Homo sapiens: one gene and its partner. The protein of the gene in region 1 purifies or fractionates together with the protein of each later gene. This does not show direct contact. Each region holds a gene or a part of one and is shown in the gene's direction. Other genes may lie near its edges.

What was found. The genes of interacting proteins can lie anywhere in the genome.
Region 2: the proteins of MAML2 (region 1) and RBPJ purify together in Homo sapiens (affinity purification with western blotting; one study listed by BioGRID and IntAct). This does not show direct contact.

Annotation. Positions count from the first base shown.
Region 1 is NC_000011.10:96,091,545-96,095,197, reverse strand, and holds part of MAML2 (mastermind-like protein 2), read left to right. Parts: intron 1-1,680; coding exon 1,681-3,306; intron 3,307-3,653. UniProt on the Homo sapiens protein: Acts as a transcriptional coactivator for NOTCH proteins. Has been shown to amplify NOTCH-induced transcription of HES1. Potentiates activation by NOTCH3 and NOTCH4 more efficiently than MAML1 or MAML3.
Region 2 is NC_000004.12:26,422,014-26,425,666, forward strand, and holds part of RBPJ (recombining binding protein suppressor of hairless), read left to right. Parts: intron 1-2,328; coding exon 2,329-2,466; intron 2,467-2,617; coding exon 2,618-2,730; intron 2,731-3,653. UniProt on the Homo sapiens protein: Transcriptional regulator that plays a central role in Notch signaling, a signaling pathway involved in cell-cell communication that regulates a broad spectrum of cell-fate determinations.

The DNA of each region.
Region 1 (3,653 bases):
TATACTAGGTTGATCCTAGCCCTGAACAAACTAATTAGAGCATGTTAGAGTGTAAATGACATATGCTTTAGAACCACACAAACTTTGAGTTAAAGCCCACTTGCTAGCTGTGTGACCCTGGGCAAGTTACTTAGTCTCTCTGAGTATTGCTTTCCTTATTTATAAATTAAGGGTAATAATACCTTTCTAATGGGATTGTTGTGCAGATTAAGGGAAATAAAGTAACCATATTCAAGTGTTTGATATGTAATATATACTCAGTTATGTTAATTTCCTTTTCTTGATTAGTCTACCTAGAAATCTTCAGGCAGGTGAGAGAGCAGCCATAAGTGAGAAGAGAAGATAGGAGAAGTGATAGAATTTTCTATCTAGGAAATGTTTTCTTGCCTCGTGTATTTTACAGTTATGCTGAGAAAACATTGAATAATTTCAGTGGGTCTGCAGCACTGGGAAAGCCACACTTTGGTAGATATGGTCTCTCACTTCAGAGACAAATCAACAAGGATATGAGGACGAATGATGAATGCTTTATGTTTCTTTTTTAATGTATTAGTGTGCTTATATGGCCCTTAAGACTTTCTCTGTAAATTTTAAGGCTCATAAAGTATAATCTGATTGCTAGTTTGTGAATGAAGTACTTTAACAGTCACAAAAAAACTTAAACATGTTGCTGTTTAGACAAGCTCCCCTTTCAGCATGTAGTAAGCCATACTTTTTCTACAAATTGTTGTTTATTGAGTTGTTACTGTAACAGGCACTTTCTAAACTTTTATATGCATTATCTCATCCCTTCCTGTGAGTTAAGTGCTATTGTCCCCATTTTCTAGATGAGAAAATTGAGGCTCAGGTAAGTTGCTGAGGTCACATAGCACCCAGTGACAGAATTGGCACTTGAGCTCAGTTTTGTCTGCTTCCAGAGCCTAAGCAATTAACACTTTCGTTTTGGTAACGAGATTTAGTTACAGGAAACAGAAGAAATGAATTCCCAGGAAAATCAGTGCTTAAAGTATCTCATATGAGGAATGATCATCTCATGACTTTTGTGTGTCCACATAAGGTTGCTACATAGGCTTGGATGCAAAGCAGTGGAATTATAGGAAGAAAAGTAGATGAACAATAATAGCATATCTCCTTAGGCCTGAGAACTATTCTAATTACTTACTTAGAGGATAATAGTGATGAAGGGGTTGGGTCTGTGAAAAAAAAAAGAAACTAGAGATTTGTTCCCAGCTTTAGACTTGTGAGTGTTTTCTATCTTGCTTAAAATTGTGCACACTCTGATCATCTGTAGCTGCGAGGAGTTGTGTGTGCATGCATGTGGAATATTTTGGCTTGCTCCAGAAAATAACAATGCTTTAATCTTAGGTACTGTGAATAACTTCTTATGATATTTGAAGGAATCTGTATCCATTGACCTATGAACCACTCATGGGAACCACTGATCTCTAACCTAATTGATCTGCTCCTCCAGAAATATTTTATTTTGTTGTGTTTGTGCTACTGAGAGTTTTATTATAATCCAGATTGTGCTTCATTTGTGCTCTCTCTGTGCCATTTTTTTAAAAAACTGAATCTTGTGTGTAAATAGAAGAAACATTTAAATATCACATCACTTTTTATGAGAAGCATCATTGGATTCATATTTCTTATTTTTCCTTTTTATTCCCTTCTGTCTTTCAGCTCCAGGGTTCCTTGAAAAGAAAACAGGTAGTTAACCTATCTCCTGCCAACAGCAAGCGACCCAATGGCTTTGTGGACAACTCATTTCTTGATATCAAAAGAATTCGTGTTGGGGAGAATCTCTCTGCAGGACAAGGTGGCCTCCAAATAAACAATGGACAAAGTCAGATTATGTCAGGGACCTTGCCTATGAGCCAAGCACCCCTGCGAAAGACTAACACTCTGCCATCCCATACACATTCTCCTGGCAATGGCCTGTTTAACATGGGCTTAAAGGAGGTAAAGAAGGAGCCAGGAGAGACTCTGTCTTGCAGTAAGCACATGGATGGCCAAATGACCCAAGAGAATATTTTTCCTAATAGGTACGGAGACGACCCTGGAGAACAACTGATGGATCCTGAGCTGCAGGAACTGTTCAATGAACTGACCAACATATCTGTGCCTCCCATGAGTGACCTTGAACTGGAGAACATGATCAATGCCACCATAAAGCAGGATGACCCATTTAACATTGACTTGGGTCAGCAAAGCCAGAGGAGCACACCTAGGCCCTCCTTACCCATGGAGAAAATAGTGATCAAAAGTGAATACTCACCGGGCTTGACTCAGGGCCCCTCAGGCTCTCCTCAGCTGAGGCCCCCATCAGCTGGCCCCGCATTCTCCATGGCCAACTCTGCCCTCTCCACTTCGTCTCCAATCCCTTCAGTCCCTCAGAGCCAGGCTCAGCCTCAGACAGGCTCCGGAGCAAGCCGGGCCTTGCCAAGCTGGCAGGAAGTATCCCATGCCCAGCAGCTCAAACAGATAGCTGCTAATCGTCAGCAGCATGCCCGGATGCAGCAGCACCAGCAGCAGCACCAGCCTACCAACTGGTCAGCCTTGCCCTCTTCTGCTGGACCATCACCAGGTCCATTTGGGCAGGAGAAAATCCCCAGCCCTTCTTTTGGTCAGCAGACATTCAGCCCACAGAGCTCCCCCATGCCTGGGGTAGCTGGCGGCAGCGGCCAGTCGAAAGTAATGGCTAACTACATGTACAAGGCCGGCCCCTCAGCCCAGGGTGGGCACCTAGATGTCCTCATGCAGCAAAAGCCTCAGGATCTCAGTCGAAGTTTTATTAACAACCCGCACCCAGCCATGGAGCCCCGTCAGGGCAACACCAAGCCTTTGTTTCATTTTAACTCAGATCAAGCGAACCAGCAGATGCCTTCTGTTTTGCCTTCCCAGAACAAGCCTTCTCTCCTACACTACACCCAACAGCAACAGCAGCAACAGCAGCAGCAGCAGCAGCAGCAGCAGCAGCAGCAGCAGCAACAGCAGCAGCAGCAGCAACAGCAACAGCAACAGCAACAGCAGAGTTCAATTTCAGCTCAACAACAGCAACAGCAGCAGAGCTCAATTTCAGCCCAACAGCAGCAGCAGCAGCAACAACAGCAGCAGCAGCAGCAACAACAACAGCAACAACAGCAGCAGCAGCAGCAGCAACAACCATCTTCTCAGCCTGCCCAATCTCTACCAAGCCAGCCTTTGCTAAGGTCACCTTTGCCACTTCAGCAAAAGCTCCTACTTCAGCAAATGCAGAATCAGCCCATTGCAGGAATGGGATACCAAGTCTCCCAACAACAGAGACAGGTAAGGGCTCTACTACTCCAAATACAGAGTTCCCAGAGACCATTTAGCTTGATCTTTATGCTGTGGTTACCATTATGTTTGTATTGGGACAAGATCAAGACCAAAGACAGTAGTGGTCTTGATGGAGTCATATGAAGACCTCATAAAGCCTGGTTCGTTGAGGGCATCTAGAGGCAAGGACTAGTACTTCCCTGTAGAGCATTAGTATCATTGTGATCTGTAATGATCAAAGGTTCTTGCTTACTCAGAATAGAGCATTATAATGTATGCTGTTAGTGACATATCCAGTTGTCAATCAGATGGTCACTTATCCAAGCAGTAAATTAGTCATTAAGTCAATGTGCACT
Region 2 (3,653 bases), on another chromosome or scaffold:
TATGTCATTTATTTGTTGAAGAAACTGGATCATTTTTCCTGTTGTGGAATTCCATATTCTGGGTTTGGCTGATTATATGTTTCTCTGTCTCTCTTACTTTCCATGAACTGGTGGTTAGACATAAAGACTTTCAGAACTGATTGGTAAGATATACATTTATTTCCATTGGATTGGAAGTCATAATATCTGATTATCCCCTTTTTTTTTTTTGGTCATGTTGAGATTGATTATAGTAGTTCAGCTGTTGTAAGTCTATTCCACCCATAAAGTTCCTCAGCAAACTTTAACCTAATGGTTTTAATAGTCATTGATGATGTTTAAATCCATTTCATTAAATGCTGCAAAATGGTGATATTCTAATTTTTTAAATTCTAACTTCTGCATTCGTTAGCTGGAGTTTTTTCTACAAAGAGGGACTTTGCCATATCAGCTATTTGCTTCAATTGTAATATGTAATGAAAAGGCAGGATTAGGTGCTTGTTTACTCATTTGCAGAATAATAACATTCCTTGAAAGTGACCAGTGGGGTTTTAGGGTTTTTGTTTTGTTTGCTTTCTTTTCATTTTGTTTTATTATGAGATCATGGTTTTTGTTGTGGTTGTTGTTATTGTTGTTGTTTTGTATTGGTTATATTTTAGTCCACTCAGTCCACTAATATCACTTAGTTTTTATTACGGAAAAATTTCAAACACTCTCAAGTAGACAGAGTTGCACCATACAGTGAAACCTCTTATGTTCATTCTCTAACGTCAACAGTGATCTTAACATTCAACCAATCTTATCTTCATCTATACCTGTACTCCAGCCCCACTTTCTTCTGCCCTTATTTTAGTTTGATGCATATCCAATCAGTGTTCAAATTTAAAATGGTCTAAAATATTTTAAAAATCAGATTGCTTGAATCAAAATTCAGATCTACCACTTAGTACAGTTTATATTGTGATATGTCCTTGAGTATAATCTATGGACACCCCCTCAACTCTTGCAATTTATTTAAGTAAGTTGAAACATTTAGTCACTAGAGATTTCCACGTACTAGATTTTGCTGATTTCATTTATTTGGTATAGTTTAATGTATTTTCTGTAAATTGGTAGAGTCAAAAAGAAATAGAGCGTGGGCCTAGTTGGAAAGACAGATTTCATTCAGTACTATTGCAATAGGGGAAAATAGAACCAAGTTCCATTTCAGAATACAACAAAGACACTTGGGGATGAAGCAGAGTGAGAGGGTCAATGGATGGAAACTTTCTAAAAGGAGACATCAAAGGTAGAAGGTTTCTTTCTGACCTGACTTAGGATTCCTGCTAAAGGCAGGCCAAGGTGATCATAGATCCAGAGTGGGAGATAGTTTAGGAGGATTCTTACTATATATAACTGAGCTAAACAGACTGATGACGGGGCTCAAGGACAAATACTAGTTGATTGCTCAGAGCAGCCTGCTTAAAAGTATGGTCAAGGAGAGAATCTTTAGTGTAGAATGGTGATCAGATTTAAGTTTGTTGTCCTTTGGTTCTTGTTTTCTTTCTGAAAAGCAAGACCTGCTTCAAAGGTGGTGGTGTGCTCTCTTGCACTAGGAGGTATATTATGTCTTGTATTCAGGCTATTTGCATTTCAGATTACACAGTTTTATGTAACTGCTTTAACTTTGTGTTTGTACTGAATATTAGTTTCTTGATGGCAGAGAACATATTTCACTTTCAGAATGTTTTTCTGCTTACATGGATTTATTTTCAAGAAATTTCATACAATACTTTATTTAGAAGAAAGCAGAATTTTCTGAAATCACAGTATGCAGAGGCATTTACCATCAACTCTGACAAACATCCTTCTGGTCCCTTTTCTATGCATGTATTCTGTGGAATTGGATGCAAACACATATTAAAAATATATACATTTGCCTAATGGAACCACAGCATACAGAGTATTTTATAGTCTGCTTTTCCATTCAGTGATATTCCAGGAAAATATTTTCTTATCAGTGTGTTTAGATACACATCCTTTCAATAGGTCATCATTTAAATTTCTACTGTCTAACATTATTTTAAAAGTAAGTTTTTCTCTAATAATCAGCACCACATTAAACATACTGTGTAGCTTTCACTTTAAAATTATTTTTATGGACATTTGATATCATTAGCTTGACATTATTAATAACAGTTACCTTGACTTTTTGATATCATCTGTACTGTCTTGGAAAGTGAAAATATTTGTCAAACTGTTAAATGATAAGAAAGAATAATTATACACTGCCAAGCAGAATTTCCTTCTTTTGCTCCCTCCCCACCTTCTGCTCCAATCACATAAATAAGAGCTGTTTTTTCTTTGCAGTATGCATTGCCTCAGGAACAAAGGTGGCTCTGTTTAATCGACTACGATCCCAGACAGTTAGTACCAGATACTTGCATGTAGAAGGAGGTAATTTTCATGCCAGTTCACAGCAGTGGGGAGCCTTTTTTATTCATCTCTGTGAGTATAAAAGTGTGCATTTAATGTTTTTAGTGTGAAATTGTTAAAATCTTTTGATGAGATACATGGATATATTAAGTTTTGTCATTTGCCTAATCATAAAATAAATTTAAAAAGATGACAATTTGATTTATTTTTCCACCTACTGCAGTGGATGATGATGAATCAGAAGGAGAAGAATTCACAGTCCGAGATGGCTACATCCATTATGGACAAACAGTCAAACTTGTGTGCTCAGTTACTGGCATGGCACTCCCAAGATTGGTATGGCTCTACTTTTGCTTTAGTGATAATGTGAAGTAAAAATTAATTTCTTAAACAGGAAAATCACAACATTCAAATGGAAAAACACACCTCAGTTTTATGCTTTTTAATTTTAAAAGGTATGTTAGTAATCAGTGCTGTTTATAATTGACAGTTATGCTCTACCTTATTTCAGAAATGCTTTAAGGTAATAGCCAGTTTTTACAAGTACATTCTTAATGATTTTTTCTTAAATGATTTCCAATATATTTTGGTGGCAATTTCCTTTTTGGCTGTTTATCTGAAGATGTTCAGTAGAGGGCACTATAAATTACATTTCTTTTCTTTACTAATGCGGATAAACCGTATTCATTTTTTTGTGGTACCTGCCATATCCCAATGTAGGACCAAGTTTGCAAACAGAAGACATTCTTATTTCTTTTGAAATATAAGCGTAATTTTTGTTAGCTTACTCTCTCACAAGAAGATAGATTTATTAAAACTGAAATAAAATTGGTATTTCTAACTGGGAGCAGGGCATAGGATTTAGGGCTTTTGTTCAATAGAAGACATTGAAACTCGGCCACGCATGGTGACTCACACCTGCAATCCCAGCACTTCAACAGGTGAAGGCAGGAGAAGGAGAAGTGACTAGCCCTGGCATCACTTGAGCTCAGGAGTTCGAGACTAGTCCTGGCAACATGGTCAGACCGTCTTTACCACTGACCCCGCCCCCCCAAAAAAAAAATTAGCCAGGCATGGTGGTGCACACCTGTAGTCTCAAGCTTAAGTGGGAGGATCACTTGAGCTCGGGAGGTCAAGGCTGCAATGAGCGGTGATCGTACCACTGGACTTTAGCCTGGGCAACAGAATGAGATCCTATCTCAACAACCACAGAAAAGGAGATCTTGAAATTGTAAAAACTACTTTTGTTAGTAAAATGA